Linked DNA regions of Homo sapiens: region 1 is linked to region 2. The links come from fine-mapping of genetic effects on gene expression. A gene starts in region 2. The other region holds a variant in brackets. All regions are shown on one strand. Distances are between the middles of the regions. Region 1 has its middle 23 kb from the start of ANXA1. Region 2 holds the start of ANXA1 (annexin A1).

Region 1 (16,796 bases), 24 kb before region 2:
GATTTCTATAGAGAGAATTTCTTAAAGGTATGGGATGGGGTTTTTCCAAAAACAATGAAGAACAGTACTGTGTCCAAGGACTAGTGCTAGCAAGGAGCTATTACTAACCACAGGCCGGAAAGACCAGGGAAAGAACAGTTATCATAGCCCAGAGAGAGCAGCTATATGGAGAAGGCCATTCAACTAAAATCTCCAAATCTCCTGCTTGTGCCTTCCTTTGGCCAAACTCAACAGGAGGTTAGAGAGAAAGGAAGCCATCAAGGTAGCCCCTAAATATCAATTCTCCAGAATACACAGCAGGGTAAAAAATTGTGTAGAGTCAATTTGAGAAAGGAGGAAAAACAGAAACATCTAGCAAATTATACAATTAAAACAGTTAAATGGCATGGTTGATTTTTGGCTAAGCTGGACTCCATGCGCCCCTCTTATCAGACAGCATTTCTTCTCTTCTTGTTTACCCATAGGCTCATACATTCGACATTGTTTTCATTTACTGATATATGTGAATGCTTTCTTGGGGAAGAAGAAACATATTTTGGAGGTTGGCAGGAGGACCTTAAGTAGTAAAACAAATCAAAGTTGGAATAATGTCTATCTCTTACATGGTTCATTGGATTCATTTTGAGACAACATGGAGAAGTCAGTAAGATACAGTGAGAAACCAGGGGATGAATATAAAGAGATTTCAGAGCCCACGTGTAAAAATGAGGAGTTGAGGTAAACTGTTTTCCCTATCTCTGCATGGAATCCAGGAATATTTTGGCAACTCCAAGACTGGAAGCTACGAAAGCATCTGGAAACAATACTATTGGCACAACTATTGAACTCATGATGATGAGTGGCAATGGTAAGGCTTTCTCAAAGGTCTTCATGAATAGTAGAATTAAACCACAAATGAGACCTGGTGGAAAGAAACACCAGGACAGACATAGTGGCATGTTGGTAATATTTAACAACCCCTCACCAAGGTTAGGGAAAAGCCCTAGCTTGTCATGTTTTCTACCACAGCCAATTTCAAGTTACCAACAATCACTGAGCTTGGATTTGGGGATTTGGGAAGAAATGTGCACAACTGGATCTGCTGAGCTGCTAGGAAGCCACTCTAGCACAGTACTGGCTACAGGCCCCATATCCTTATTGTAGCCGAAAACTGACTTCGAGTACATATGAGATGCTTTTTAAGTGACCATGCACTTTCATGGGCATTACTTTCTACCAGTCAAGTGGTGGTTGCTGTCATGACTTAGCAATAAAAATAATATACTACTTAATCAATTTCCCAATTGTCTCATATCAATCTGATCTGAGGTATTTGGGCAACTTAAATTATATGTCATAATTCTAAGAATTTATAAAGGTATGCTGATGGCCTTTATGTGTAAAATAAAAAAGAATACAAATGGGATGGAGCAATACAGTGTCTAACACAAGGTCATATGGACCCTGTATATTTGTTTCTTTTGCTACTTTGCAACCACCAATATTTCTCCTGCTTTGACTTGGGTTGTTTCCCTTTTGAGTTTGCTTTAGTGACTCTCTCTTCCTTACTTAACATAATTGTTTCCTTAACTTCTCCGGAATTTTTTTCAAGGTAGTGGGTGACTGTTCATGCCTGGTTTGACTCAACAGTGGCTTCTGAATTTGCATAAGTAAGGGAATATGAATTGTTCTAGCTCCATCTTCTCTTTCCTGGTTGTAACATTCCCAGCTTCAAATAGACTCATACCTGCCTTTGTATCCCCTCAGATTATTGCTAGTCAGCTGTGCCCTCTGATTCTGCCACCTGACAGGTTCTTGAAACTTCCTGGCAGTCTGCTTCAGGTTACATAGATTATGACACATCCTACTGAGAAATTAAATTGCTGCAAAATATTAAACCAGAGACATCTATTTCAAAAGCTCTATGTAGGCAAAGTGTGTCTTTTTCACAACTCTACATCCACCTTCAGTGTCATTTTACTATTTATTGTCTGTTTTGTGTTCTATAATATAGCAAACAAGCAAGTGCATGTCTCTTAAATCAGACGTGATAAAGCTATCATCAGGAAGACTAGGAATATCAACTGCTAGTGGCTTTCTACTGGGGGAATACAAGGGGTTGGGAGATATTTTGGAACAGGGTTAATCGCCTTGTTTTCCAGCAATCATATCAAAAATTAAGTCACATCTACCTGGTTAAAAAAAACAGTTTTGTAGTAATTTATTTTTGTATTTGGTGTTGAAACTTCTAATGTTTCTGAAGAATTTGAAAAATTAATTCCTGCATTTAGTCAACAAATATTGATTTAATGTGGACACTTTAGGAATAAAAATACGAATCAGATACAGATTTTTCCTTCCAGGACAGTAGACTCTCCTAAGAGAAATACACCATGTACACATGGAACAATGCTAGAAACTAGGATGTAAAAAGTCCTTTTACATAGAAAGGGCTATGAGAAAAGTAATAATAAAGATAAGAAAAGAGAAAAAAATCTTTTCAGGTAGGAGATTACAAGAAGACATTTGGAGGACTGGTGTGTCCATCTGTTTCTGTTGGGGGTGAAATAGTAAGTGGGGGCATTTCTCATAGAATATAAATTTTGAGACACTTAAAAGAACAACGAACAAGTTGTTTTATCTGGAATACAATAGTTATTACAAAGCATAACAGAAGGAACTGAATTAGAAAGGGACAGTGCATCTAGACAGTGGTATTCTTCAATAATTACGGTGTGAACTCATTAAAGGTATTTGATCAGAAACCTGGATAATTCAGAATTATTCATGAGGACAATTTAATCTGGTGACAACACATAATTATAGGGAAGAGGGGAAAGGTAACATTAGAGAAGGGAAACCCTAACAGAAGGCTATTGCAAATATAACAAAGCAAAAGCAGTGATATTCTAAATGATGATAAGCTCAGTGAGAATAGAGGGAGAGATGAGATAGAGAGGGATCAGTTATCAGCATTTATTGAGCATTTACTCTATGCTAGGCACTGTGCAGAGAATTCTGTATGGATTATCTCATTTTAACTACAGAACAAGCTTATGAGGTAATATGAAAGAAATAAAGCTTTGCATTTTGTTTACAGTCAGGAAACAGCCAAAGACTGCCTTTTACACTTTCATAAGATGAGCTGCTCCTGTGTGAACTGCTTTCCCTCATACAAGAGGCTACAGATTAGTTGGAAGATCAAATAAGATAAAAGAAAAAAAGAACTCTGAACTTATTCATAAGCTGCCGTTAATAAATGGTAAACTATATGAACTAACATTATTTCATACAGCAGACTATTAAGATTTCAATACTTTTTTAAAAAAAACAATGATTTCTAGGTTTTAGAGTTAATACAAAATAATGGCCTCTTTGGCAACATGATTTGGTGCATCAGAGAGTCTTTATTATCTTTTTACATTGGAGGTCAAAAAAGATGGAGAAAGAATCTTTAATTTATGATAAAGGACAAGAAATGTTCTAATTTTATTTCTATTTCATCATGGCAACCAAGGCAATTTGTAGGACAAAACCTGAGTGAAGTATGTGTTTAGTTTTATAAGTTTGATTTATATCTATCTAAGGCTCCTGGCTCAGTCTGATTGTTATTTATTATTACTTTTCAATAAAAGCTAATTTTTAATCTCAAGAAAGAATATATATACACACATATATATGTATATATACACACATATATATGTATATATACACATATATACACACATATATGTGTATATACACATATATACATACATATATATGTGTATATACACATATATACACACTATATATGTGTATATACACATATATATACACACACATGTGTATATACACATATATACACACTATATATGTGTATATACACATATATACACACACATATGTGTATATACATATATATACACACACATATGTGTATATACATATATATACACACACATATGTGTATATACATATATATACACACATATATGTGTATACATATACACACATATATGTATATACATATACACACATATATGTATATATACGTATATATACATATACACACATATATGTATATATACGTATATATACATATACACACATATATGTATATATACGTATATATACGTATATACACACATATATGTATATATACGTATATATACACACATATGTATATATACGTATATACACACACATATGTATATATACGTATATACACACACACATATGTATATATGCGTATATACACACACATATGTATATATGCGTATATACACACACATATGTATATATGCGTATATACACACACATATGTATATATGCGTATATATACACACATATGTATATATGCGTATATATACACACATATATGTATATATGCGTATATATACACACATATATGTATATATACGTATATATACACACATATATGTATATATACGTATATATATATATAGTGTGTGTGTGTGTATGTGTGTGTGTATGGCAATGATTTGAATGCCTCTTCTGAAACTCATGTTGCCATTTAATTGCCATTGTGACAGTATTAAGAGGTAGAACTGTTATGAGGTGATTAAGTCAGGATGGCTCCACCCCATGAATGAATTAATGTCGTTATTGCAGGAGTGGGCTCATTATTGCAACAGTGGGAATTTATAAAAGCCAGTTTGGTTCTCTCTTGCTTGCTCTCATGCTCTCTTGCACTTCCGCCTTCCACCATGGGATGATGCAGCATGAGAGCCCTCACCAGATCCTGGCACCTTGCTCTTGACTTTCCAGCCTCCAGAACTATGAACCAAACAAATTCTGTTCATTATAAATTACCTGGTTTGTGGGTATTCTATTACAGCAACATAAAATGGATAAAGACTATATATATATATACACACACACACACACACACACACACTCACAAATATATATTCATATTATATACTTAACTGTATTCAATATTAGCATCTCAATTTTACAGGTTAAAAAATATTCTGAAGATTAGTTAGCTAAATAGCATACTCAAGGTTGTACAGTAAGTAAAAGATTCAGAAATTTAAGATAATTATTTACTTATTTATGGATCTTTCAATTTATTTATGTATATTACACCATAAAAAAACCACCTTAATGAAGACAGGTACAGTTGACCCTTGAACAGCATGTGGGTTCGGAGTGCCAACCCTTTGTATAGTCAGAAATCTGAGTAGAACTTTTAACTCTCCAAAAACCTAACTGCTAAATAGCCTGCTGTTAACTGGAAGCCTTTCCAATAACATAAACTGTTGATTGACACATGTTTGTATGTTATATGTATATATACTGAATTTTTACAATAAAGTAAGCTAGAAAAAATGTTATTAAGAAAATCATAAGGAAGAGAAGACATATTTCTTCTCAATGGAAGTGCAGCATCATAAAGGCCTTCATCCTTCTCATCCTTAGGTTGAGTAGACTAAGGAGGAGAAGGAACAAGAAGGGTTAGTGTTGCTGTCTCAGGGGTGGCAGAGAAAGAGGTAGACAGGTAGAAGGGGAGGCAGGAGAGGCAGGCACACTTGATGTAACTTTTACTGAAAAAAAATTAATGTATTAAGTGGCCGTATGCAGTTCAAACCCATGCTGTTCAAGGATTAACTGTGTATGGACTGTTTTTCACTCCTATATTTTCAGTACCTAAAACATTTCCTGGCTAAATCAATATGGTTGCATAGATAAATGAAGGCAAGTAGTATGACCTCTGAATCACTATTCTCAGCCACTGAATACTGCAGCTTCTCTGGAGACACTCAGAGACTTGGATGGATGAGGAATAAGGGTGAGGTGCTGTAAGTCAGAGAAAACTAGGATGACACACACATGAGTAAGAACAGGTTTAAATGAGATAATATTACAATATTAGAATATATGCTGATTTGTGTGCTCACCAAATGTTTGCCTTTTCAGTTCACACCTTGTCCAACTTTGTAACAGTTATGGACTTTTGGGTTTTTTTCCTCACAATAAGCCTATGTTCTGTAAGCATGAAGTTATTGTGTTTTAAGATTTTTAAAAAAATTTTACTTTAATTTCTAGGATACATGTGCTGAACGTGCAGGTTCGTTACATAGGTATACGTATGCCATGGTGGTTTGCTGCACCTATCAACCCATCATCTAGTTTTTAAGCCCTGCATGCATTAGATATTTGTCCTAATGCTCTCCCTCCGCTTCCCCCCACTCTTTTTCCTATATGTGTTAATTGGAGATTGGCTGAATTGGAAAGTTAATATTTTTGTCTATATTTAGTTTCTAGGATTTAAATACTAACTCAGTTTTGTTTCCTGGGAATAAAATTGTCTCTTTATTGTATTATAACATGAGATTTTGATGTTTTAATTTGTAGATTTAAAAGTTAATTCACACTGGTTGTGAATAAAGCATTTGTGAAACTAACATAAAAATAGTTTCCCATACAAAATATAATGTCCATGCAATATTTATTTAAAAGTTTATTTTAGCTCCGGAAAGGTGTTGAAGATTATTCTATTAAAAGTTGAATTGTGTTTGGGATATTTTCTATTGTATGGGTATAAACAATGTCCCCACATAAATTCATTCTTGAAGATAACCCAAAGCCCCTTTTACATTAATTTCTCATGTCACTTATAAAGTAACATGCAACATTTTCAATTTCTATTATTAAAAATAGTACTAAATGATTTCACATCAATTCTTATATTTGACAGAATAAAAATATAATCACCTAATTTTTGTATATATTTATATAAAATATTCCTAATTTGAATAAAAAATACTATACCACATTTACCATTTTGTATCTCTTTCTATTAAGAACTGCATCTCTATGTTTTGTTCTTAAAAGTTTGAAAGCTGGATCATCATTCTTGTAATTTTTTTAGATAATAAGAAAGATGTTAGGTATATTAATTTTGGAGTTAAAGATTCATAGTAAATATCTTTTGCAGGCAATGAATATGTAAAATTATAATCCCAGGTAAAGATAACAACCATACAAACAGGCCGGATACAGTGGCTCACGCCTGTAATCCCAGCACTTTGGGAGGTCAAGGCAGGTGGATCACGAGGTCAGGAGTTCGAGACCAGCCTGGCCAACATGATGAAACCCAGTCTGTACTAAAAATACAAAAATTAGCCAGGCGTGGTGGCATGCACCTGTAATCCCAGCTACTCGGGAGGCTGAGGCAGGAGAATTGCTTGAACCCAGCAGGCGGAGGTTGCAGTGAGCCAAGGTCGTGCCTCTGCACTCCAGCATGTGTGACGGAGCAAGATGCCGTCTCAAAAAAAAAAAAAAAAAAATCATACAAACAATAGAGATGAGGAGCGAAAAAAGTAAGATCAACTTTAACATTTTACTATATGGTAGAATGTCATTCAATGAGTCATTATATTAATTAGATTTGGAAATATAAAATTATGTACAATCAGATTTAACAAAGTAGACTAAAATATGGGTCTTATTATTAGTCCTTTATGGAAGCAAAGAGGTTCTGCCACTTGTGTGATTGTTTACTGCATTTTTTTCTTACATATAGACAACAATTCTCAAAGTTGGCTATGCATTTTGTTTTTTAGGACTGTGATGGAAATCCCTGTGTGTGCAGTTAAGAAAACAGAATTTAATATATATTAAACTAAGCAGAGGCTTTAATAGTAATCAATCAACTAAGTGTTCTTTTTATTCTTCCAGTATCCTAGACTTTCCTTATCCTCGGTTAATGTTGTACCTGGTGGTCTAAATTGATCATTCTGTGGGGGACACATTTCCTCAGCCTTGAAGGAACTGTGCTCTTGGTACCCTGCCCTCATCCTACTACAGCTGCTGTATTTACTCATTCACTTTTATCAGCAGGTGGAGAAACGTCAAGATGTATCCAAATGATCTTCCCGGGTCCATAGTTGATACTCTATTATATAAAAGCTATCCTGGGTAAACTTTTTAGAGCAGCCTACATTGACCAAGTATGAGTGGCAATTTCAGGTTCCTTTTCTGGAAAAAACAGGATGTCTAATGGAGCAAAAGCTAAAATTGTGAGGACAGAAA[T/G]CAGGTGTTCTGCAAATGGTTTCCTGGCAATGAAGGCTTAGGGCCAGAGAAGACACCATGGGTGCTCTTCCCTCTGATGGCTCTTTCACTACATTCATAGCTGCCTCAGTGTGCTCTCAGTCCCATGAGACAGCACCCTGTGATTATCAGTGGCTGCTGTATTAGTTTGCTAGGGGTGTCTTTAAGACTGGGTGTCTTAAACAATAAACATTTATTTTCTCAAGGTCCAGAAGCCAGAAATGTAAGATTAAAGCATCAGCAGGTTTGGTTTTTCTGAGAAAACTCTCTCACGTGGTATGGCAAGGAGAGAGGCCATTTCTCTTTAAAGGCCCTATCTCCAAAACAAGTCACATTCTGATGTACTGTGGGTTAGGACCTTAACTTATGAATCTGGGTGAGGGACCTGCAATTCAGGCTGTCACAACCACTTTATCTGCACAAAAGGGAACTAAATATGCCTGGAAATTTACATTCCCTCAGTCATAGCTCTAAATCAATGACTGGTAGGTGCACAGGTAAGACTTTACCTCTATTGACCAATTCAGAGTTGAGATCTATACTGTGCCCAGAAATGCATGGCAGGCTTGAACAAAAGATGTACTTCATTGGAAATTGCTTGATAATGCATCCTTTATTGGTCTTCTTCTGTTATTATTCCCATTTCTCTGTAATTTCTTGGGAATATACTCTAATACATAAGTTACACACAAATTTTCATCATAAGATTTGTCTTTCGAATGCTGTTATGGGTTGAATTGTGTCCTTTAAAAATATATCTTAAGGTCCTAACCTGTAAATATGACCTTATTTGGAAATGCAATCATTGTAGATGTAATTAAGGTAGGGTGAGATAATGACACTATGTTAGAGTGGGCCCTAAATCCAATATGAATGGTGCCATTATAAGAAGAGGGAAACTTGGACACAGAGATAGAGACACTCAGGGAGAATGTTATCTGACCACAAGGACACAAAAAGGAGAGTGCCATGTGAAACCAGATGTAAATATTGGAATGGTGCATCTATAAGCCAAGCAATGGCAAAGATTGCCAGCAAACCACCAGAAGGCAGGAGAGAAGCACAGGACATAATTTCGTTTGGAGCACCCAGAGGAAATCAACCCTACCGAGACCTTAATTTGGAACTTCTATCCTCCAGAAGTGTGAGAGACTAAATTTCTGTTGTTATATGCCAGCAAGTTTGTGGTACTTTCTTATAGCAACCCTAGGAAACTAATGAAGAAACGCAACTTGAAAATAGGTTATTTCAGAAGTGGTCCTAGGAAGCATACACTTAGGAAGGGATTCTGAGTTAGATCACTTGCCATCTGGATAACAACTGGATCACACTGTTGGAGATTAAACTGTTAAAAACTGAAAACTCTAGCACTGTCATTGCATAACTTTTGCCAGTGGTGAGTTGGCATGGGATACAGATGAAAGGAGACTACACATGCATTTCAGAGCTATGGGGGGATTTATTAATTATAAGATTTGGAAATTGGTTGGTTGTTGCTAAGTGTCATTGTGCCGAAGAAGAAAATTGACAAGCTCAGGTTTGTCCGTTACTAACCAGGGGCATGGTATGAAAGATTGGAGGACTCCAGGGCAGCATTTAAAGAAACCCATGCTTTCTATAGCTAGAAGACAGATTGAAAGGAAGACTGGATGATAAACTTTACTATAAAAGTAGTAGAAATACAACAAAAGATGAGTTAATAGCCTTGGCAAGGTTTTATGCTAAGTCAGAACCCTGATAGAGATGGTGCAGAGAATTGTAGGTGGATGTGCTCAAAATTATAGAACTCGCAGATTCCTTTGAACCCCTGGGCATATAAGAGTGGCTTATTTAGTTTTGCTGGAACATAGCAGCTTTCTCTTGCTTGAAGGCCACACCAAAACCTCAACCGAGATGGATGCCTTTGACGATGATATTTGTCCTTATCAAGATCTGACTTCACTTTCTCTCCTGTCTTCTAGTTCTGTATCTAAGTCTCAGCATGGGCCAACCAGGGAAGGGAAAAAATTACTCTCCAAAAGAACATCAAGACGTGATTAATTTGCAGCAAAAGGAATCAGGACAGCATGCCAGGAAGTATATCTTGATAGCGCTGGATTGGGGTGAGAGCTGGGGATAGTGAGAGAGAAGCTTGATAAAGGAACATTTGTCAACAAGGGAACATTCTTCCATGACTGAAAACTCCCTAACAAGAGCACCTGGGAATGGTTCTAATACGCTGCTTGGATGGTTACTAAAAGTTCTGTAGGGGGAAGAAAAAGGCTCACATTAAATTAAGCAGAGATGACAGAACTGCTTTAGCAGAGTTTTGAGGAAGGGCTCAAAAGGCTCAGAGAAGTGAGCATGCTAGAATGATTCTATTGTGTAACACCAGAGAGACTACCAGCTGATTATGTTCATTGAAGGGCCAGAGAACATTCTCATCACAAAGCTGATAAGGAATGTGCTATTGATGGAGGGATTGGCATATTTGAGAAGCTTAGTGATAGCTGGACCGAAGTTGACAGTAGGCAATACTGTTAGAGAACTGGGCTCCCTAGTGTCAATGGAAATGATTATATTCCAGAATATCAGGGGTCAAGTGCAATATAGTCAACCACTAGAGATCTATGGTGATGGCTGATATCCCAAGGTGTTTATCGAGAAAAAATAGATGGATAGACAACAAGAGCGTGGTTGGCTATACATAATCAAGGATGATTAAAACTGGATGAGCAATTGGAAGCCTCATGTCATCAATGCCCACGGAATATTACTTCTTGACCCAGTTTAAAAACCTGCACCAATTCTCAGACCCACAGAAGGAAGCTGCAATGCCACAAGCATACACAGCAGAGATTTCTGTGCATACAGTTGTATACATTTTAAAAATAATCCACTTATAATTTGAATTACAACCAGGGAGTCCACTATGCATATTCTAGTCTCTTTATCTTGGGTAATGATGCTTCTCGTCTCTGGAATACCCTTTGGCACCTTCTCTATGTGAGTGCTATTTCATGTTTTAAGGCTTACAGTAACCTTTCTCGATGACCTCTATCTCTTAGTAGAAATCACGTTCTCCAAACAGCTATCTTGTTCATTTAACATTTACTATATTCAGTTTTGAATGGTTGTTAAAATTTTTATGTAAATAAAAGTTTTTTGGAATTGTCCATTTGATATATTTAATTTATTCCATTTATTAAACTTGAAGTAGACCTTCGAGAATCAATTATTATTGATTCTCAAAATGCAAATATTATTATAGTTATCCCTTTATCCTAGATTGTTAATTGGTTGAATTATTTGAAATCCTTGAGATAAACTAAAATAGACAGGAATACTTAATACAGAATGATTAACTTGGGTAGATAGACAGATTAAACTTAGCTTTTGTTTAAAAGCTGGAATTCTAAGTAGTCAACATCAGATGAGTCAAATGAAAATTGATACCCATTGTAGAACTAATGAATGGTCTTGCAGTTTAAGTCCTTTCTTAACTCTGTCATCTTTTACTTTGTAATGACTAAAAAGCTACAATTACTATCACAGGAGTCTTCAGTATGTTACCATGCCAAAACTGGGAAATGTGGCTGGCTGTTTCCTAATGGAAAATTGTTAGCTTCTTGGCGACATGAAGAAAAGGATGTTGGGATTGCCCTTTCAGACATCAAAATTCATTACAAAACTTTAGAAATTAAGATACTGTGGTACCGGGAACGAGAAAGATCAAAAAATAGACGGAAGAGAACAGAGAAAATTGAAAGACATATCTATATGTCTATATCTGCACATACAAATATGCATATGCAATCACACATAGTTGATAAATCTCACAAGAAATAAAATTTAAAAGAAAGAATCAAAGTGAATATGGTGTTAGTAAAAAAAAAAGGCTATGAATTTTTGAATACTTTTTCCCAAGGTGGTGACATTCCAGCATATACTACAAACAAAAGAGGCCATTCACCGGATGATATCATCCCTTCAAAAATAAACTTATCCTCAATTTCCTGATTAAAATCAGACATTCTTCTGCTTGACAGAGGTCCTTACTTCCTGTTTTCTCTAGCATTTGCCAAGTGGCTCTGAGGACTTCGGTGTAAGAACACTCACTTAACTGTTCTGTAGTGCTGACTTTGAATACTTGAACAATAACCCACATTTCTAAATTTTCAATTTAAATAATGGTGCTTTTTGTTTTTAATTTTGCCTCATTTTCGAATCCTAAGGCTATTAGAACAACACCAAGATGACAGTGTTTCTGCTGTAACTTCCGTCTGCTTCTGCTTCTCAAAGTTGTGTAGTATAATTATTTCTATAGCAACCAGCCGAGGAAATGCCTTGCCAGCACACAGACTCAAAAGAGAAACATGCTGAGACAGGCTCAGCCGTGGGGCTTCGGAGCGCCTGGAGTTTCCAGCATTAAACGCTACAGCTGCAGAAGCCCATGCTGTTACCTTCTCTCCTCATCCGTTTTTAGTATTTGTAATATTTCTGGCCCTCCCACATCTTTGGCAATGTTTTCTAACGTCCCTCTTCTCTTTCTTCAGTGTTTTTCATAAGAACGGTCCTTTCATTTCTGTTTTATGACGTATAGTCTTCTGATAATAACACGATAAGCATTGTGGTGGTTCTGAACATACAACGAAATTAGAAAAAGTGGAATAATAAATAATTCACTTGTTTTCCTTCAGCTTCATAAGGTTTCTACTAATCTGTTTTCCTTATGGGCCAAACTCTTAGAGAAATTTGATCAGGTGCCTTTAAAAATATAGAAACACGTTCAGAGAACTTCAAAGAATACAAAAAATAATGTATTTCTTTTCCAAAATAACTTCACTTTCATCATAAAACATGAAAAATGGTGAAAGAATCATTTCCAAAAGAAAACCTAAACTTGTCTGATTTCAGGACACACTTTTATCTTTAAAAAATTTTTCCTTACTGTTGTGAAAGGAAAAGAAAAGCTCAGGACCCCAAATTCACTATGCCAAAAGGGAAGAGTTAAACTTGGAAGCTGAGTCATAAAAATAAATAAATAAATAAATAAATAAATAAAACAACCCAAATCTGCCTCTCCTTTTGTTCCTAAATTGACAGCTAATGTCTTCAGAGGGGGCATCCCTCACCCTGACAGTGTAAATTAACAGTTTATCTTCACTTCAAGGGTACAGAAGTGTAGGAAAATGACACGGTGAAATAGATGGGTACTCACTGGCAGCAGTTTCATCAATTCTAGCTTCAAATTGTCACCTAATGCCATTGTTTTATTCTGTAACCTATAGATTTACTTTGTAATGATTGATTCTGTAAAATTGAATTATAAGGTTTATTTTTGTTAAAGTTTTTTTTTTGTTTTTTTTTACTACTTTTAGTTTTTTTTGGGTTTTTTTTGGTTTTTTTTTTTTTTTTTTTTTTTTTTTTGTGACAGAGCCTTGTTCTGTCGCCCAGGCTCTGGAGTGCATTGGTGCGGTCTCAACTCATAGCAACCTCCACCTCCTGGGTTCAAGTGATTCTTCTGCCTCAGCCTTCTGAGTAGCTGGTATTACAGGCACCTGCCACCACGCCCAGCTAATTTTTGTACTTTTAGTAGAGACAGGGTTTCACCATGTTGCCAGGCTAGTCTCAAACTTGTGACCTTGGCCTCCCTAAATGCTGGGATTACAGGTGTGAGCCACTGCGCCTGGCCTTAATTTTCATTTTCAATGAAAGTTTTGTTAAGTTTAATTTTAAAAAAACTTGATGATTCAAGGTTTCATTACACAAACTCAGGTAAAGTTACTGGATGAATGAATTCTTTTGTATACCTAATCCTGTAAACAAACCAGTAAAGGAATAGAGTAGCCTCTATATTTAAAATTCTGTCCCCAATATATGAAACTGACATAGTGCCAATGCAAATTAGCTCCCTTGCTGAACATTTTCATTCACACTGTACACACCACAGTGAGCCAGGACATTTCTTTCTCAGTAAGATGTTCAGAACTCTGGCCAACAACTGGCTTGATGTTTGCATTTTCCATGTGACGTAGTGTTTTCCTTGGTTGACTATTATGGCCCCACCCTGATGAGCCAGTTGTAGCAAGCCAAGCCCCAGCTTCTGTACCCAGAAGATATTCCACCTCTTGCTCAACAAAGCAGCCTTGGGTGTTTATGACACCTGAGGTAATGGTTCACAATCGGGATTCTTTCAAAAAGTACTCTCAGATTGATACTCTCTGTGTTTCCACATATGTCCCCTCCATGCTTTCAGAGAGGAGTCATGCATCCTAGAATCAGCCATGTATTGTGTCAAATGGCAAGAGGTATTTCCTGGAACATTTCTTAATTGTGTTGCTCTTTTTATTGAAATTGTGCTAAAATATAAATTCAGCACACAGGAAAAGAAACCTGTCCGTGGCCCATTAGAAGTTTCCAAATCGCCTCTTATTTGAAAGTGATGAACTATTTTTGTTAGATTTGTTGTTTTTTAATTTCTCAAATTTATTTCCTGAAGAAGAAATACAGTGTTTCCTAGGGTTTTGTTGTCGTTGTTATTTTTAAAAATAATTTATTTCATTTTTTAAGTCCAGATCTGTAGAAAATATAAAGTTTCTTTTTTCTCTGGGAGCTCTCATCTTGAAGAATTATTTGAAATGTATGATTATTAGCCTAAGAAAGCTGAAAATCAAATAAATTATGTTTTGATCTTCACAATTAGCAGTGTTTTTACAATATAATTTTTCATATTTTCTCTAAATTGTACATTCATATCATTGATGTAAGCAAAGTATTTTATGTTATAAAATTTTTTAAATTTCTAGAAAGATAAATAAGACGTGAATTTCAACCAATAGTGTCAACAATTATTTAAATACATTTTAGACACAGAATGGCAGAGTATTTAGAAGTGTATTGAATTTGATTACTTTCTAAAACGTGTGAGATCAGAGTAAGTCTTAATATCTATCCAGTTGACTTAATTCATGCTTTAATATTTTTCTGCTTGGTTTGTTTTGAAGATAGAAAAAAGCATTTTGTATTACATTTTCTGTAATCAATATAACTTACATCTGGCAATTTTCTAAGGAGTGTAAATTTGTTTGAAATACAAAATAAGTTGCCTAGAGAATCAGCTTATTTATTTTTCCAAAGTACTTTTAAAAAATTGGAATCTAAGCATTTATTTATAGTCAATGACTTCTAGTGAATAGAGGCTAAGAAATAATGAAAAAAAGGTTTAAACATAAGAACTGAAGGATAAAAGCTAATTCAAGAACTGAAAGAATTTCAGAGACTATATTAAAGAAAATTATGAAAAAGAGTTCAAGAATAATCAACCCTGAGAAAAGATCATAAATGGACAAAAACCAGGCACACACAATGCCTTTGCATTGCATTCATTTCATTATAAAGACAATGAGTAAGTTGAACTGTCTCATTATTTCATCACTTAGCTTTGTCTCAACTGTCAGGTATGAAAAATTACTGAGAAGAATAAAAGTTTTGAAAAGGAAAAAAATTTGAAAAGTATGAACACACTATGAGTGCTAACTCCAGAATAGCTGGTTTTTCAAGAATTATACAGGAAACTGAGTAATGATGTAGTAGTTAGAAGCAAAAGTGTAGTTCTGAGGTTCTCACACACTCCCAAAATGGAGAAACAAAGGGGATACTTGTAGTTCTATGGGATTATACATATAGGAGTTCATGGGTGATTTTTCAGCACTAAAATGTAGCTGTATATGGGTTCATAGACACTGAAGTCCTCATATTTTGGCCTCTATTTGATTTTATTATAAATCCAAAATTTTGCCTTCCAGGTAGAATTTTGGATAATTTTATGCCTCCAAATGTCAAAGGCAAGCTGGGCATCATGATCTGGCATAAAGAACCCTTCACTCAAAGAAGGTAAAAGATCTAGATTCAAGTGGCAACGTCTTTATTTAGCAATCACTGGCTTTAGCTAAATCCAAAATTCACTGGGCTTCAGTTTGAAATATGTACAATGGGCCAAGTGTGGTGGCTCACACTTGGAATCCCAGTACTTTGGGAGGACAAGGGGGAAGGATCATCTGAGCCTAGGAGTTCAAGACCCACGTGAGCCACATAACAAGATCTCTTCTCTATAAAAAACTAAACATATGCCTGGTGTGGGTAACATGTGCTTGTGGTGAACTATGATCACACCACTGCACTACAGCCTGGGCAACAGAGTGAGACACACAGTGTGTGTTTGTGTGTGTGTGTGTGTGTAATGATCATGTCACCTTCCCACAATACAATTATGAAGATGAAATAAATATACATGGAAGAGTTTTATAAGCACTAAAGTGTTAAACCAATGGGAAGTTTCACTCTTGACTGTTGTAGCAGATAGGATTTCACTTCTTTCTCTTTTATTTAAAATACTTTGTAATTACATATTTGAGAGGAAAATGCTAGGCACTTATCAATGTCTTTGGCCTCAGAGTGGTTTTGTACCAGATCAAGAATCAAGCAGTCAGAAGACAAAGTTCCATGTGGTCAGTTACATACTTTAGTGGCACCATGACCTAAATGTCGGCATGAAGACAAATTTATCTATCTATACTCAAAGATAAACACACACCTATAAATACATGTATTTTATTCAACTAAGAAAGTAGGTTGAAACCCTCCATTTGATATGTCTTATATAGTGAATTATTACTAAATTTTTACTAGTTCTAATTAGTACATTTTTGGCACTGCATTTTCAATATAAAATGGCCTTAAATTGAATAGTGATTGTAATTAGATTTATCTTTCTG
Region 2 (16,796 bases):
AAGCAACTTTGTTTGCAAAATGGGTTCTTCATTAATTTTCCCAGAAACACTTTTTTTCTGTTAGTGACATTCACTATACAATAGTTCTCCTCAATGCAGTACTTATTTTTAACAAAACACTGTCTATAGAGTTTTAAAAACTATCTCATAGTTATATTAAATTTAGTACATTCAAGCTGCATAGAAATGTAACTTAGATGTTTCAGTTTAAAGGAAGTTTAGGAAACACTGTATTTTAAGAAGTCCATGAGGCAGTTCTGATCTGCATTTCATTTCCATATTGCAAATATCAAATACTATGAAAATATTTGCCTAACCCATCATTTCTAATCCCAGTGAGTTTTTGGTGCTCCCCCTTCACCCAACTAAGCCTTATTCTCTTTACATTTAGAACACTTTAAGCAAATTTACCTGTGTCCATAAGCAAATAAGTCTCAGCTCCAGGCAGCTGACTTCTTGTTCACCCAGATGGAAATAAAACTACAATGTGCATATTATAAGCACCTGCCACAGCCTCTTTAAAAATGCCAAACCTTAACCAGGCAACAGGATACAGTTTCAAATAGGAAAAGGAGTTTTTGATGGAGCCTAAGAATCTTTAATTCTCTGGATTGACCACTGTAAACCCATTAGCTGAATTTAAATTTCTTGGAGTTCTTCTGAATCTGGCTATTACATGTGGAATTTAGAATTGTTTCTTTTTCACATTTTGCTTATTTTTAGTCTCTCCAAAGGACTCCTGGTTATGTATCAGATTTAGGGAAAATGTTAGAATTTGCATGTTTGGCTTTGAGCTTAAAGATGATCATAGTTATGTAAAGTGTGCAGGTTATCCCCCTTCTTATGTTATATTTTTACCCTTTTTTATGGCAGTTTTGTGGCCTTCCATAATTGTATAGATATATAAAAAATACAAATACTTGAAAAGTTAAGAGGATGATTTTTGTATACTAACTAGCTACACAAGTGTCACTTCTAATATTTCTGTACAATTACGACATTGCAAGACATTTTATTTTAAATTATTTGGTTATTAAAATTTGTCTTATATCCCTTGCTATCATTATGCATGTAGAAAAAAAAAGATGTGTTGTTGCAAAATTTAAGCATTGTTACCTTTAAACTATGGTTAGTGCAAAATAGGTGTCTTTTCACTTCAACTGTAACCAATTCTGCATGTTCTTGGAGGTGCACATCAAGGGACTTTTTGGTGATCTTTAGATTTGTAGGTGCACTGCTGCTTCATGAAAGAGACATTCTGGCCCATCCATTGCCTCCCTTAAGTCTACACGAGTGTGTAGACCCAACTCTACACAGATCGGGTGGCTTAATTAACAGAAATTTATTTCCTCACAGTTCTGGAAGCTACAAGTCCATTATCAGGGAGTTAGCAGTGTTGGTTCCTTTTGAGGCCATGCGGGAAATATCTGCCCCAGGCCTCTCTCCTTGGCTGTGGATGGCTGTCTTCTCCCTATGTCTTCACATCATCTTCCCTTCGAAAATTCTTGTCAGTGCTGTTTCTTAGTCTCTGCCCCTCAGCATTACTGTATTTGTCCCACTAGAGGACTAGGGGTTCATCTCTTTCTTCCTATTAAATCTTCAACCAGGAAAGGAAGATATGAGGAGATCCTCAGTGCAAGGAATGGCCCTCATCTCAAAGGCTAGTAACTCTTTCCTTGTACTGGTTCACCTGTTCTCCCAAATATTCTGGAAGCTTATTTCATCAACTATGCTGTTTTTTGTTAGTTTGTTTGTTTCCTGTGGCTTCACTCTTCTTCTATAGCTCCTCATGGTCTACCTGAGAACACGTTCAGATTTCCCAATGCTACCTCACAATTAATATCTTGTTACTCTCTTTCGGTTTTCCACCATTTAGTGAAAGCGTGTATGTCTAAGAGTTGCCTACACTTAACTCCATATCCTCAGCTCCTATGGTCTTCTCAAACCAATTTCTCTCCACTGTGTTTCCAAAACCCCTTATCCTTAAGGCCACCACCTCTTTCTTAATTTCCAAGTACAAGAGCCATTTCTAAATGACTTCCTTTTGGAGCCTCTTTCTAAGTGACCATTTTGTATCCTTTTGCAATGTTTTTCACAGCTTTCTTCCTGACACTTTCACCTGCAGTTGCGTCATCAGGATTACATTATCTTGGCTTGCTTTCTGCCCCTCTTAATTATCTTATTCTGTGTGTTTTTTATTTTAATAGTTGCTGCCAAATGACTTTCAAACCAACAAGCAAACAAGCACCAGCAATATATGAGTGTATCCTTTTCTAATACCATTTATTGCTGGTAAAGGTGTTACAGAAAATTTGAGGTCATCACCACCCTGATGGGTATATATCCATATACTGTCATTTCTTTAAACAGTATTTCCCTCACCAGTGTAAATTTGAACAACTTTTACTGTTTGTTTGGCAATTTGGATTTGCATATCTGCTGACTCGGAGGCATTTGACTGTACTCAGGTTTCATCCATTTTTGTTGTTTGGATTGCTTGCTTTACAATTGATAAGAGCTCCTGGTACACTGTAGATAGTAACACTTTGTTAGTGCATGTAAGGAAATATGAAGTTTTTGTAAGAATCTACTGATTTTGCTTATTTTTTCCACTTGAGGATTTTTATTTGCCTATATTAAAAACACCTCTCATTTCTTTTATAATAACAGGTTTTAAGCCACAGATTAGTCTCCCACCACAGAGATTATAAATGTTATTCTCAGAATAGATTATCCTGAATAGTGATCTTTTGCAAGTTACTTTTAACAAAGTATAACCATATTTGACTTGTAAATGAGAAAATGAGATTTAGGATTTATCAAGTTTCTCTTTGAAAGAAAATTTCATTTTTCTATTGGATAATAATCTATTTATGATAAAGTTAACCAAAATCACCCCAACCAATGCAAAGCAAACATTTATTGTGGCTTGGTCTGGAAAACTTTCATTACAAATTTAGCTACAAGATATTTACAGAATATCTTGTAAAGTTTATTGTTTGTTTTATATATTTACTCCCATTTTAATTCCAGATCCATCCAGATCCATGTTTTTTTATTTTTTAAGATAGTATAAAGATCCAGTTTTTGTTTAACTATGCTAGTTTAAAGAATTGTTTTAAATCACTTTTTAAACCTATTGAGTTAAAATAGAAATTGAAAAAAAGTCATTATTAAATTTAAGGATATTAATCTTTGGTTCGTGTCATAAATCCATGGAGTTGGCAATGATTATGTGAAGACTTGCTGTATTTTTTGTGTTCTGATTACATAAGAATTTTTGAATTATTATATTAGAAATTATATGGTCCTGGTATATCTTAGAAAGTATATAATCAAATGAAGTTCCTTTTTTTCATAATAGACTCTAGTTTTTAGAGAAATTTTAGGTTTACAGAAAAATTGAGCAGAAAGTACAGAGAATTCTCATATACTCAATTTCCCGCTGCTCTTAGTTTCCCCTGTTACTAATATTTTGGATTGATGTGGTCCATTTGTTATATTGGTGAACCAATATTGATACATTATTATTAGCTAATTGCCATAGTTTACATTAGGGCCTACTCTTCATGTTATACATTTCTATGTGTTTTGCCAAATCCATAATGTATGCATACACCATTACAGTATCATACAGAATAGTTTCACTTCCCTAAAAATCTCTTTTTTTTTTTTTTTTTTTTGAGACATAGTCTCGCTCTGTTGCCTAGGCTGGAATACAATGGGGCAATCTTGGCTCACTTTAACCTCTGCTTCCCAGGTTCAAGTGATTCTCCTGCCTCAGCCTTCTGAGTAGCTGGGACCACAGGCGTGCACCACCACGCCCAGCTAATTTTTTTTTGTATTTTAGTAGATGGGGTTTCATCATGTTGGTCAGGCTGGTCTTGAACTCCTGACCTGATGATCCGCCGCCTCGGCCTCCCAAAGTGCTGGGATTACAGGTGTGAGCCACCATGCCCAGCCCACTTCCCTAAAAGTCTCTTATTTATTACTCCTCCCTGCCACCAACTCCTGGCAACCATTGATCTTTTTACTTTCTCTATAGTTTGCCTTCTCCAGAATGCATCTCATTGGAATGAAACAGACATAGCCTTTTCATACTGTCTTCCTTTACTTAGCGATACTCATTTATGATTCCTTCATTTCTTTTCCTGGTTTAAAAGCATTTCTTTTTATCATTGAGTAATAGTCCATTACATAAACGTACTATAGTCCATGTATTCACTTACCTCTTGAAAAATATCTCAGCTGCTTCCAATTTCTGGTAATTATGAATAAACTGCTATAAGCATACATGTGCAGGTTTTTGTGTAAACATGTTTCCTAACTCATTTGGGTAAATATCTAGGAGCACAATTGCTGGATTGCATTGTAAGACTCTGTTTATCTTTGTAAGAAACTGCCAGACTATTTTAAAACAGCTGGAACCTAGAAAGCAGAGTTTGACCTTTTGACCTTAACACATATCTTCATTTTCCTTCTGCAAAACTTCTTGAAAATTATTGAAGTAAAATTTGTTATTATAGCGAATGTGACAAGGTCTTATTCTCTTACTTTCGAATAATATAGAGAGGGATATGGATACTATACTCAGGGATTAAACAAAATAACTTGTGCAATACAAAATTACTAATCCTAGCATGATCCTGATGTTGGAAGTATACTAGTTGAATCACCAAGTCATTCGCTGACTTTTCCTAAGTCACACAGTAATAGATACTAAGCCACCACCAAATTTGAGTTTTTATCTTCTCTAAGATTTTCCACCCACAAAAGGAAATATAGAGAGGCAGGGAGGTAAGATCTTTTTCCCTAAGTGAAGTCCAACAAAGGTACCTCCCTTTGGCTCTAGCTACCCACATGACTACTTCATTAACCTGAAAGAGTAAAATTTGAAAAAAAATTCTGTCTTTAATTCATGTGAATAACTGAGGAATAATAATAATAATAATCTCAATAACTCAGTGTGTGTGTGATAATTATTTGCCATGTTTAGAGGCAAAGGGAAAACATTTAGAATGTTAGCCCTCAAAATGCTTTGACCTGGGGACACATGAGAAACACACACTAAAATAATGATTTTTGTTGGCTGTGGATAGGGGGTATGAGGAAGCTGTGGGGAGATTTTGGAATATCTGTGAAATGCTGTTCTTGATCATTCAGAATATACTCTTTCTTCCATATAACAAGTAATGCTTAGATAGAGTTAAATGTAAAGGATGAGGGGACAGCTTACTAAGATCAGATATTTTGCAAGAGTCTTATGCACAATGAGATGTATGTGAGAGACTCCATATTTCCTCTCCTTGTTTTGTTTTGTTTCCTCTTCACTATCAGATTCTAAACCAAATGAGTGAAAATAAACATGCTGTGAAAAACGTAACATATAGAGATTGATTTTAACTGTCTTTTTTCTTTCCTTCTCTTTCTTTATTTTCTCTGTTTGTAAAGTAAGTGGAGCCGATGAATCATCATCTTCTAGAAACAGCAAGAGTGGTGAGTCATTTCTCTGGAGTATGTGGCATTTCACCCACAGAAAGCATTTAACCCATGATTATCCCCTCACTGTTAATGATAACATATTTTACTTGTTCTTTTATTTCCATAAATCTACTCGACATTATTATTATGCGGAGAAAAAGATTCTGACAGATTATTCACAGCAATATACCTACATGATTAGTGGCTTTCTTTTTGTGTTATGTTTGGGAGTTTCACTTGCCTTTAGTGTTACAGCTGGAAGTTAATTTTGGAAAAACATTCTTTTCACTTTTTTTTTCTTAATTCTGCTACAATTATCATATTTATTGTTGCTATTTTAGGTTTGCCTATGTATTACAAATCCAAACATATAAAATAATTCCATTCAGTTTATGGCACTGGTAATAGCAGCAACAAAGCAAAATGAGACTATACATGTTTTCTAGGTTGTTATATTTTATAAAAAGTAAGTGGAATTTTTTCTTCATTTCACAAGAGCATCACTGTGCAGGAATGTTCCAATAGTTCCATTACCAGAGTTAGGAATACAAACGCAAATTAAAGAAAAAAAGAAAACCAGATTTTGTATAATCATCTTATTCCTTCTCACCTGATGACATAAATATGGTATTAGAAAGTTAGTCTACATCTGTCAAGATCAATTTGCAATAATATCAATTAACTTAACTTGTTAGCAGGTAACTAATTAATTTTCAACTTACACATATGATAGTAAAAACATATATTGACATTTTCTTAAATATTTAGATTAGATGATCATCCTACTTCAGGATATGTTGACTTCATTGATATTGGCATCGAGCACTTAGAATGTATTATAAAATACTGCCAATCTTTAGAAAGTATTTTCATTAACTTCCTAAACTTCATGTTTTTTATGTGAAATATCTATGAGGAAAAGAGGAAAAAGAACAAACCACTAAATGCAGCATAAATTGAGCCATAATGCTGTGAGATTTTACACCTGTGCACTTTAATGGAAACATCATATAATACTTTGTAGGGTTTAAAGAAGAATGAAAATGAACCACTATGGAAGTTACCAGAACCAATTTTCCTCCATTGGGTGGGAAATTTCTTATGGAATGTGTTCTGTAATAGTTGCTGCTCCATTAATCCTTTCATTTTATAGGTCTAGTTCCTTGTTTTGGTGTTCAACTAGTCTACAATGTCAAAGATGTGTATCAAAATGTATATATAACTGATCTATATTACAGTTTATATATATAGTTCTATGTAACTGACTCTATTTAAAAGAATTAATGTAGATAGGCCTTCTGATGTCAATGCTTTTATTGAATGTCATAATGATCAAATTTTTGGCATTACCTTTGTTCAAAATTTTGAGCCAATCTGGAACTTTATTACTTCTATATTTCTTATTTATAACAACAAGCTATATCTAGGAACAAAAGTCGTTTATTTTTTAAGGCAAGAAAAATATAAATAGAAAATTATTCGGCACTGTGTAATGTTAAAATTTACAAATATATGTTATTTCTCCATTGTCACAAGAATTCTAGTGGGTAGACAACTTAGATAATGCTCCTATATACAAAAGTAAAAACAGCTAGGCATGGTGGCTCACGCCTGTGATTCCAACTCTTAGGGAGACAGAGGCAGGAGGATAGCCTGAGCCCAGGAGTTTGAGACCTGCCTGGGCAATATAACGAGACCCCATTCTCCACAAAAAGCGGGGGAAAAAGACAACAAAACAAAAGTAAAAACAGGTTCAGAAAAATTAAGTATGTCCCTAAAGTCACAGAATAATAAGTGATGGAGGTGGAATTCAAATGTAATATTTTGTTTGTTGGTTTGTTTAGTTTTGAAGGTAACATACTTTTTAGTCTACAACCTATTTAACTACAAAAGTGTGCCAATCACTGGTATTAGGATTGGGGCAGATGTATACTCTGAAAATAAAAGTGCAAAATAAATATCCCATCTGGAAATAAAAGTGCAAAATAAAGAGGGAGGAAAAATCAGCCCTTCCATTTCTTTTCCTTTGTAATGCCAGTTGAATTGGTTTAGTGAGTAGTTTTGCAAGACTTGTTTCACTTTGTTTTTGGACATAGCTGAGCCATGTACTTCAAACAGAAGGCAGCCAATTACTAACTTCTGGTTGCTAGGTGTGGCTTCCTTTAAAATCCTATAAAATCAGAAGCCCAAGTCTCCACTGCCAGTGTGAAATCTTCAGAGAAGAATTTCTCTTTAGTTCTTTGCAAGAAGGTAGAGATAAAGGTAAGTCTTGGTTTTCCTTTTAGTTAGTTTTGGTTGTTTTGAAAACTTTTCTCATCACTATGTTAAATGTTACTGCTTCTACAGGATTTATGGTTAGTTGCATTTAACATGATAAGTCATTCATAAATCTTTCTGTAGAATTACATTGGATATTTATATTTTAGGAATCACAAATTACAATATTTTTGTTCTACTTAGTTAACAAATACAAGTAAAAATAAGATAAGTTTGCTTAATACTGGCTCATTGTACTCTTGGTAAGTTACCATGAGAAAGAAGGGAAGAATGTGCTTTCCCTCTGGTAGCCTTAAAAGAATGTGTTTTTCCTTTCCTTCCCCTTGAAATATTTCTTCCCAAGAGCTGTGTGTTTTACAGAGAAATCGTGATGGGGGCTGCTTTTTGGGGGCAAGAACAAAAGTGATAGGAGTGGGCTGCAGGGAACTGTTTCAAAATAGTAGGACTTTCATAATTTATTTTCTTCTTTTGTAAGGAAAACAAGATAGATTCAGACCTCAAAGTGCTAATCATGCTCTTTGTAATAAACATTTAAAAATATATGTTATATTTGCTTATGCTATTTAAAATAAGAAGGTCCGCTTATTACTTTTTTCATTTAAAGAGGGTGTGGCCACATTCCTTTTCTTGTAGGCTCTGTGTCATATACAGTCTTTTCAAGTGCTGGCTGGAAAACCTAAAAAGAAGGGAAATACTTTCTGGGTAGTGTCAGATACATTATCCTAGGGGAATGTCAGTGAGGCCCTCCAACAGCTATTCCACTTGATTGTTGCATGAGCTAATGGCCATAAAACTCCTTAGAAAAGCACAAAGCAAAACTAAAGAAGAGTATTTACTAGTGTTGGATATATTTGTAAAAGTGAGATTACAAATCATGTATCTGGCTATTTTTTTCTTAAACATGTTCCTTCAAGAATTTTTCTGTTCGTTCATTTTAAATATTTATTAAATGTTCTGATTTCTTATGTTCACTGCTAGCTAATTAACAAGGATGGAATTTTTCTTGCCTTGGTTATATCTAAAAGATTGTAAAAACTTTGAGAAAGCAATGTTGCCCTCTTTCCACAGGAGTATTTTGGTAGCTGTAAGAGAATGCACATTGCAAATGACTCAAATGTGGTAAAATGTTGGTTTCATAATTCTGAAATGGCCTCTTCCCCAAAAGTGACAGTAACACCCTAGCTCCAGGCTCAACCACATCCAGCACATAGCCAACATTTAACAGATGTTGACAAAATAGTTAATAATAATATTATTAAGGAACCAGCCAGAGTTTCATGCTTATTAAATACTTTTTCAACCAGAAGGTCTGCAAAGGTTGATTTCTGAATATGACGTTAGCTCTCTCTAGACCTATTAATTTACGACATTTCAAATCAGAGGTAAACCAGCAGACCTATTATTTTTCAATGATAAACTATAAACAGTTTTTTGAAGTCAACTATTTCCTTTTCCTTTAAAATTGGACAGAATTTCATCAGGAAGCTCAGAACAATCCAATTTATATAATGCCTTCCTTCATTATGCTAATTTTCTTCATCTTCATCTACTTGAAGTAATATTTAAGATTGGCACTTCAGAGCTGTAAATGGATCTTAGATGATAATTACTTCAACATTCTTATTTTATAAACGAAGACCCTCTGGAGAAGCTAAATGTTTTTCTTGAGGTCAGATCGCCAGATAATCAAGAACCAGTATACTTCAATTTGTATTTTATATCCTATAGTTGTGGGTAGAAAATGTTCATTAAATTAGTGTAGATATGTTTTTTAAAATATTAGCAATGATACATGATATTCATTCAATAATACTTATTAACATCCTAAATTCCAGGCATTTTGCTAGGGATTGGAAGTACATACATAATGAATATTATTATTTGTATGTTAGCACGGGCCTCATGGCCTGCTCCTGGGGAATATAAACAAGCCAATGGAAAGTGATAATACAGAAAGGTGGGGCTGGTGTAGGGGTGAAGTCAGGATGCTTTGGGAGAGCATGGAAGGTCACCGAATCCAGTGCTGAGGAACTAATGAAGGGTTTCTGAAGAACGTGATGAGATCAATGCTGATGAGTCACTTAGAAGTAGCAATTAGTTAGGCAAAGGGAAGTGAATGTGGAGGAGGAACAAGCATTCCAGGCAAGAAGAACACCCTATCGAAAAGCCTGGAAGCAAAACATTAGTGAGGCTACCTTTCATAAATTGCTTTCTGTAAGTCATGCCATTGTGTAGTCTTAATTGCTTTCTCTCACCAGGGAAGGTGTGGGAAGGACTTGTGAAATACATATTCGAGGAAAAACTATGCACAAGGCCGTGCATTTAAAAATAAACTCCCTAAGGCTGGGGTGAAACCTGCTACGGTCTGCGCAAGTTGACTGTTAATGAATTTGATTCTCAGGTGTGAGTGATTAAAAGAACACTGATCATGTCATTTTCTTTTTGGTCACTAATTCCCTCCCTCCCTTCTCTTTCTTTTCTTTTTTCTTTTCTTTTCTTTTTCTTTCTTTCTTCCCGACAGAGTCTTGTTATGTCGCCCAGGATGGAGTGTAGTGGTACAATCTCGGCTCACTGCAGCCTCCGCCTCTTCCTGGGTTCAAGTGATTCTCCTGCCTCAGCCTTCTGAGTAGATGGGACTACAGGTGCACACCACCATGCCTGGCTGATTTTTGTACTTTTGGTAGAGACGGGGTTTCGCCATGCTGGCCAGGCTGGTCTTGAACTCCTGGCCTCAAGTAATCTGCCCACCTTGGCCTCCTAAATTGCTGGGATTGCAGGTGTGAGCCACCATGCACAGCCAAAATATATAACACTTTGGAATCAAAAGGGATGGATTTATGTCTCCATTCTTGCCACTACTAGCAGGAAGACTGCTTGAAAATAGCACTCAGTTTTCCCAGATAGAAACTGAGGATAATGATTAAAGGCTATTATTCCAAGCAAGGGTTAGTCATTGCTGTTACTATCATTGCAAAACTCTGATAGTTCTAGATTGTAACCAGGAAGATACAATCAACCACAAAACTCAGCTTCCTCTGTCACAAATTCTAGATAGAGGTAGCCTTTCATGAGGCTGAGAGATGGAAAAATGAAGCGGGGGGACTCTCTTAGGACACATAAATATGCAAAAAAATTGCTACGCTTTAGAAAGCTATACATTCAAATCATAGATAAGCTGACATTAGTAGGCAGTGCATGTTCACAAAAAGACCATTAATTAGAAGAAATGTGAAATATTGTTAATTTCCTTATAGATTTGCCTATGTATAAATGGCCAATTTCACCGTCAATGAGCTCATGCTAAGTACTGAAATAAACTTAGTTTTAGAGCTTATCTTTGGTTAGTTGAAATCTGTATTGAGTTAGTTGAAATCTATAAGTTGATAGAACAGGCTCTTTAAAATCTATTGCAAGCTTTATACACTACAAACAAAAAGATAGAAAAAAGAAAACCTTTCATGAACTCATTGGCTTAGGCAGGTTTTCATGCAGAGTGTAGGTATTGAAGAGTCAGAACGGCTTAAGGATAGAATTTGGCCAATATATAAAAAAATATATATTTGGTATTTGTTAGTTGTATTATAATTATTCAGAAGTTCAGTTAATACGTGCAGTTGGCTTTGAGCCCTTAACCAGCTGTATGTGATAAAATCTGTTTCCTTTAGAGCAATTTCTTATATCCTGCCTTGATGCTCCTGTCTTTAATCTTTGCTAAGAGCTGGTGGTGAATTTGGCTGAATTCAGATTCCGTTTTTCTCTAATTGATTTCTTGAAGAAAATTCTCTATTGGTTGCTTTTCTTTCCTAGATTATGCTTTTAGTCTATCCAAATACTTCAGGCTAGAATGTAGGAACTTAGAAGATACAAATCACAAAGCTGTCTCCTCTAGGGATGCTCTCTCTTTCAAATAAGTGACTTAAACAACTTATTTTTGTTATCTTGTGTTATGTAATTAATATACCTTTTCCTGGGCTTTCTCTGGCTTTTTTTTTAAATGGACATTATTCAAGTATTTTTTAGAAGTAAAAAAAAAACAGTACAGTAAAGTTTTTATAACGTTTATTTTGAAGTTGTCAGAGACACCTTTAATATTAGACTGGACAATATCTTTAGTCTTTCTTTTGCTTTCTTTTGAAGTTTTTATTTGCTAATTGAAAAGAATGGAATAATAATAATAATAATAATAAATAAATAATAATAATAAATAATATAAATAAATAAATAAATAAATAAAATAAATAAATAATAAAAACATGTTTTTATAAGTGATGGAGTAGTACTTTGCCAAGTGATGAATTTTAACACTCATTTTGATGATTCTTCCTTATCAAAGCCTTGGATGAAATGATGAAAATGGAAATTTTGAGTGCCTGAAGCTGCTAGAATTGCTTTTAAAGTATTGGGTGTGCCAATTAAGAAGGTGGAATATGAAACTCCATGTGGCAACCGCAATTGCATGAAACTAGACTGTAATGGGAACTAAAACCTTGTGCAAAATTGCGGGTTGTTACTTTATCAGGAAGCAATTTTAAGTCTATCAATTATATTTAGGAAACAGGCTGCTTTAAATGAATGGAAAAAGTATTGGTTCTTCTCACAGATGACAGAATAGTAATAAGAGCAATCCCATGCGAATTAAGTGGGGATGATTTCTGCTTTGGATATTATTTTCTTCATGCATTCAGTGTTATTACTTGCAACTCCAGTTACTTTTTAGCAGGTGAAAATGGAAAGAGTTTGTCTGAACATGCTGTTGAGGAATCAGTTTATGGAATCAGTTTATGCCTCATGAGTCATTTATCTTCATATCAAGAATTTAAAACTGCCAAGATTGTCCTCCCAACCTCTCTCACAAACATTCATGAGAGTAGTCTCTAGAGGGGTGAAACAGAATGGTGTAGATAGACAGATCAGTGTAGACCTTGAGCAAGGCCTCTGAAAAACATCCCCAGACTAAAAGGATCTGTGATGGCATTTTGTGTGTGTGTGGCCAAAACAGAGAACACATTAATTTTCAATATACTTAAGATCTTAAAAATATATGTCTCATTAAATAAAAATATTGCCAAGTCATGATAGCAATTCAAGAAATTTCCTTTAAGATAGAGTTTGCCAAAAGAACATGCATGTTACAATTGCACCTCTAGGCTTCCTGCTACAACAAAAAAATCCAGTATAAAATAATTCTTTTCTGGGTTTTTTGTGTTGGGTGGGAAAATATGTAGGACTACTATTTAGACAGCTCAAATAGGAAGAAATGTGAAGATAGCAATTACTTCAATGCTGAGTACTTTTATATCAAGAAATAGAAAAGGAAACTAAATTATTCAGGGAGAAATATCACCTGGATATCTTTTTACAATTAAAATTTTAAATCTGAATTCACTTGTACAGATTGGCACAAGTTATTTTACCTTATAAATGTAATCATTGGCTGGGAGTGGTAGCTCACACCTGTAATTCCAGCACTTTGGGAGGCCGAGGCGGGCAGATCACTTGGGGTCATGAGTTCAAAATCAGCCTAGCCAACATGGTGAAAACCTGTCTCTACTAAAAATACAAAAATTAGCCGGGCGTGGTGGCTGGTGCCTGTAATCCCAGCTACTCAGGAGGCTGAGGCAGGAGAATTGCTTGAACCCAGGAGACGGAGGTTGCAGTGAGTCGAGATTTCACCACTGCACTCCAGCCTGGGCGACAGAGAAAGACTCCATCTCAAAAAAAAAAAAAAAAAAAAAAGCAATCATTAAGCTTTTCATCTAGCCATTACTTTTGTACAGGCTCTCATTAATTCCACATAGATGGTCTAATGGTCTACTAAATAGTATTCTAATCCTCCATCTTGTCTATCTCTTAGCCATTCTCCATGATAAAGGATGAATGGTCTTTCGGAAACATAAATGAAACCATGCTGCTTTAAAAAAACAAACAAACAAAAAGAAACCCATTAATGTTTTCCCAAAGCTTTGTGGACACATTGAAGCTTCTTGTTTCAGCTTCTGCCAACATTTCTCGCTCCAGCAAACTTTCTTCTGCTTCCCAAATATGACAAGCTTCTTCTTTAACTTTTCTGCCAGGTTAATCTTGACTCATTTCAAGAGAGGCTTGGGTCAGCCAGGGCCTACTCTAAGAAGTTTCTTTAGCCCTTATGTTTTCCTATGGAGAGCACACACTAGCTTTAAGTCCTGAGGGTACTTAAGATGATATTTCAATGTTTTTGTACTCTTAGTGCTTGGCATATGGTGGGTGGTCTACAAATTTAGAACAATGTAGTGAACCACAAACTCCTCTCTTCAGCCTGTGTGCTTACTTGTAGTAGTTGTCTGATCTCTAAAATTTAGAACTGAATATGCCAAGAAAGAGTTCAATTTCAGAGAGGAGGGTATGGTTTCATTTTAAGTATAAAAGCTTCCTTTAAAAAAAATTACGTCTTACATTTTGTTATGCTCCTAAGTGTAATTGATCCTGGAAAGTAAGCGCAAGGCTACTCTCTAATGCTAACTCTTATGTATGTAAGAGGTGAGGAAGGAGAGGTTGTGTGTGGTGCATTTGTTTTGTAAAAGCATCTAACTGTTTTCTTTCCAGACACTTTTTCAAAAATGGCAATGGTATCAGAATTCCTCAAGCAGGCCTGGTTTATTGAAAATGAAGAGCAGGAATATGTTGTAAGTAGAGTGATAATAAAATTATGATTACAATATTGAAATAAAAACGAATATAAGTAAATGGCCATTAATTTATTTCTCTCTCATTCTTAGCAAACTGTGAAGTCATCCAAAGGTGGTCCCGGATCAGCGGTGAGCCCCTATCCTACCTTCAATCCATCCTCGGATGTCGCTGCCTTGCATAAGGCCATAATGGTTAAAGGTAACGTGTTTCCTCAAAACAGTTCCCTCCTGGACATTTCAGAATGGCTATTTGAATGACTGTCAAAAAACAGACATGTGCAATGGAAAGAATCTGTTTCATTTTGAAGATAAAAACATTTCTTTGCCAAACGAAGATGTAATTATTTACTTAACACTGAGGAAATTGTGTTCACATCAGTGGAATCTCTATTGTTACAGCAGATATTACTGGCTCATTTCTAGCAGAAATTCCATGCTGAAATTAAAAGCTCTGTTCACATATAGAGTTGCAACTAGTATCAAACACTGCAACACTGAGGGCCAGGAAAAGTTAATTGTCTCTTCCTTTCTCACTCGAATGAAATGTCATTCTCCCAAGTGCTTCCTTGATATGTAGTATAGCATCGATTTTTTAGGCTGATATATAATTTATATTTCTTAATTTGTTAAGAAGTTCTTTTGGAGCATCTCAGTAATGAATTATTTTATGTCAATTGATGATGAAGAAAATTGGTGTTAAAGGCTGTTGGCCCTTTATTTCCAGGTGTGGATGAAGCAACCATCATTGACATTCTAACTAAGCGAAACAATGCACAGCGTCAACAGATCAAAGCAGCATATCTCCAGGAAACAGGAAAGGTAAGTTAGAGTGGTAAATTTAGATATTTAATTTCAGCATAGTTATACTTAACCATGGATTCGGAAGCACAGTTACCTAGTTCTTTAAGGTTCTAACCACTGTTTTCTCATTACATCTATGATTGGGATTGCAGTGTTTATCCACTTTGTTGCAATTTAATCAATTTTATCAAATTTCCTATTTTTATACATTAGTCATCTTGGTGTATATTGTTTGCAGATGTGGTGCTCTGGGGACAAATTTTTAATTTGAACGTAAACATCGAGATTGCTGCTGTCAATAAAGAATATGGTCTGATTGAAATGTACTAATATTTAAACTGAACTGTTTAATGCCTAAATTTTATATATAATTCTACTTTAAAAATAAGCCTTATGTCTTTTATACCAAATATGAGTAGTTTTCTAAAGCAATGAAATTAGAAAACTATATAATTTCAGTATCTGATTATACTGCTTGTTATTTGAGAAGTACAAACCTCAAAGATTGGAAACATGAATATATTATTTTAAAAGTAATTTTACTTCTGTTTTCTGTTAGCACACAGTCCTCTGTGTTTTGATCTTTGTGATTTCTCCCCTGTGTATAAGATTACTAACCCTATGCTTTAAGAAGTTATTGATGAATTCAGTAAATTTTATTTTAATCCCTCTAGATCTGGAAGGGTAAGATAATGTTTCAAAATATTTGGTACACTTTGTATGTGAAGGGAAGAAGCTCTAAAAGATGGTTGGGTTTAGGGATGAGTTGTACGATGACCTAAAGTCAGGTAATATCACATTTTTTAACCTAGCATGTTACTTATTGGAAGTCCTGATTCTAATCTTTTTTTTTGTAGCCCCTGGATGAAACACTGAAGAAAGCCCTTACAGGTCACCTTGAGGAGGTTGTTTTAGCTCTGCTAAAAACTCCAGCGCAATTTGATGCTGATGAACTTCGTGCTGCCATGAAGGTAAATCGCCCAATTTGAGCAAACTCCTTTCCTCAAGAGGATGTATTGGGCAAGTCACTTATGCTTATGTTATTTTCAAAATCTAGTATAGTACCTGTCAATCAGTGGGAGTTTGAAGAATAAATAAATTAATACCTCAATGAAGGAATTAATATATAAATGAAAACAGAAATGTTGGCACTAACACCTTCCATGTCATGTCACTATATGAGTCATATATTTGCATTTTTATTTTTACCCAAAATATTGATGATAAACTTGTTTTGTTTTAGGGCAATGTAATAGAGCTTATTGTAATTATTAAATGTTGTGGGTGAAATTTACTAAATGACAGAGTCAAACAAATTTTGGAACACCAAAAACTCATTGATCCTCTTGCATGAAGATTTTTTTCTACATTTATCCTTTTCTTCTCTTCAAATTTAGGGCCTTGGAACTGATGAAGATACTCTAATTGAGATTTTGGCATCAAGAACTAACAAAGAAATCAGAGACATTAACAGGGTCTACAGAGAGGGTAAGTTGTAATGTCCAACAGTCCAAACGCCTTATTTGAAAAGGAAATCTAATATACTTTCTTAAAATTGACTGTCTATGGTAA

What was found. PIP is the estimated chance that this variant, and not a neighbour inherited with it, causes the effect. A credible set is the group of variants that fine-mapping cannot tell apart.
Region 1: its variant is the best candidate, but not a certain one, in a credible set for the expression of ANXA1 in whole blood (INTERVAL, PIP 0.59).

What each region holds. Positions count from the first base shown.
Region 1 is chr9:73,120,093-73,136,888 of GRCh38, forward strand. No RefSeq gene overlaps it. Among named protein-coding and RNA genes, the nearest start is that of ANXA1, 23 kb to the right of the region's middle. RefSeq lists an enhancer at 12,280-12,699. The variant T/G (reference allele first, on the strand shown) is at 8,023.
Region 2 is chr9:73,144,182-73,160,977 of GRCh38, forward strand. It overlaps ANXA1 (annexin A1), which reads left to right and starts at 7,684. Exons shown (of 13, transcript NM_000700.3): 1 at 7,684-7,743; 2 at 14,341-14,420; 3 at 14,514-14,622; 4 at 15,148-15,242; 5 at 16,082-16,195; 6 at 16,622-16,712. The coding sequence starts at 14,355. RefSeq lists cis regulatory regions at 1-67, 5,392-5,642 and a silencer at 9,672-9,966.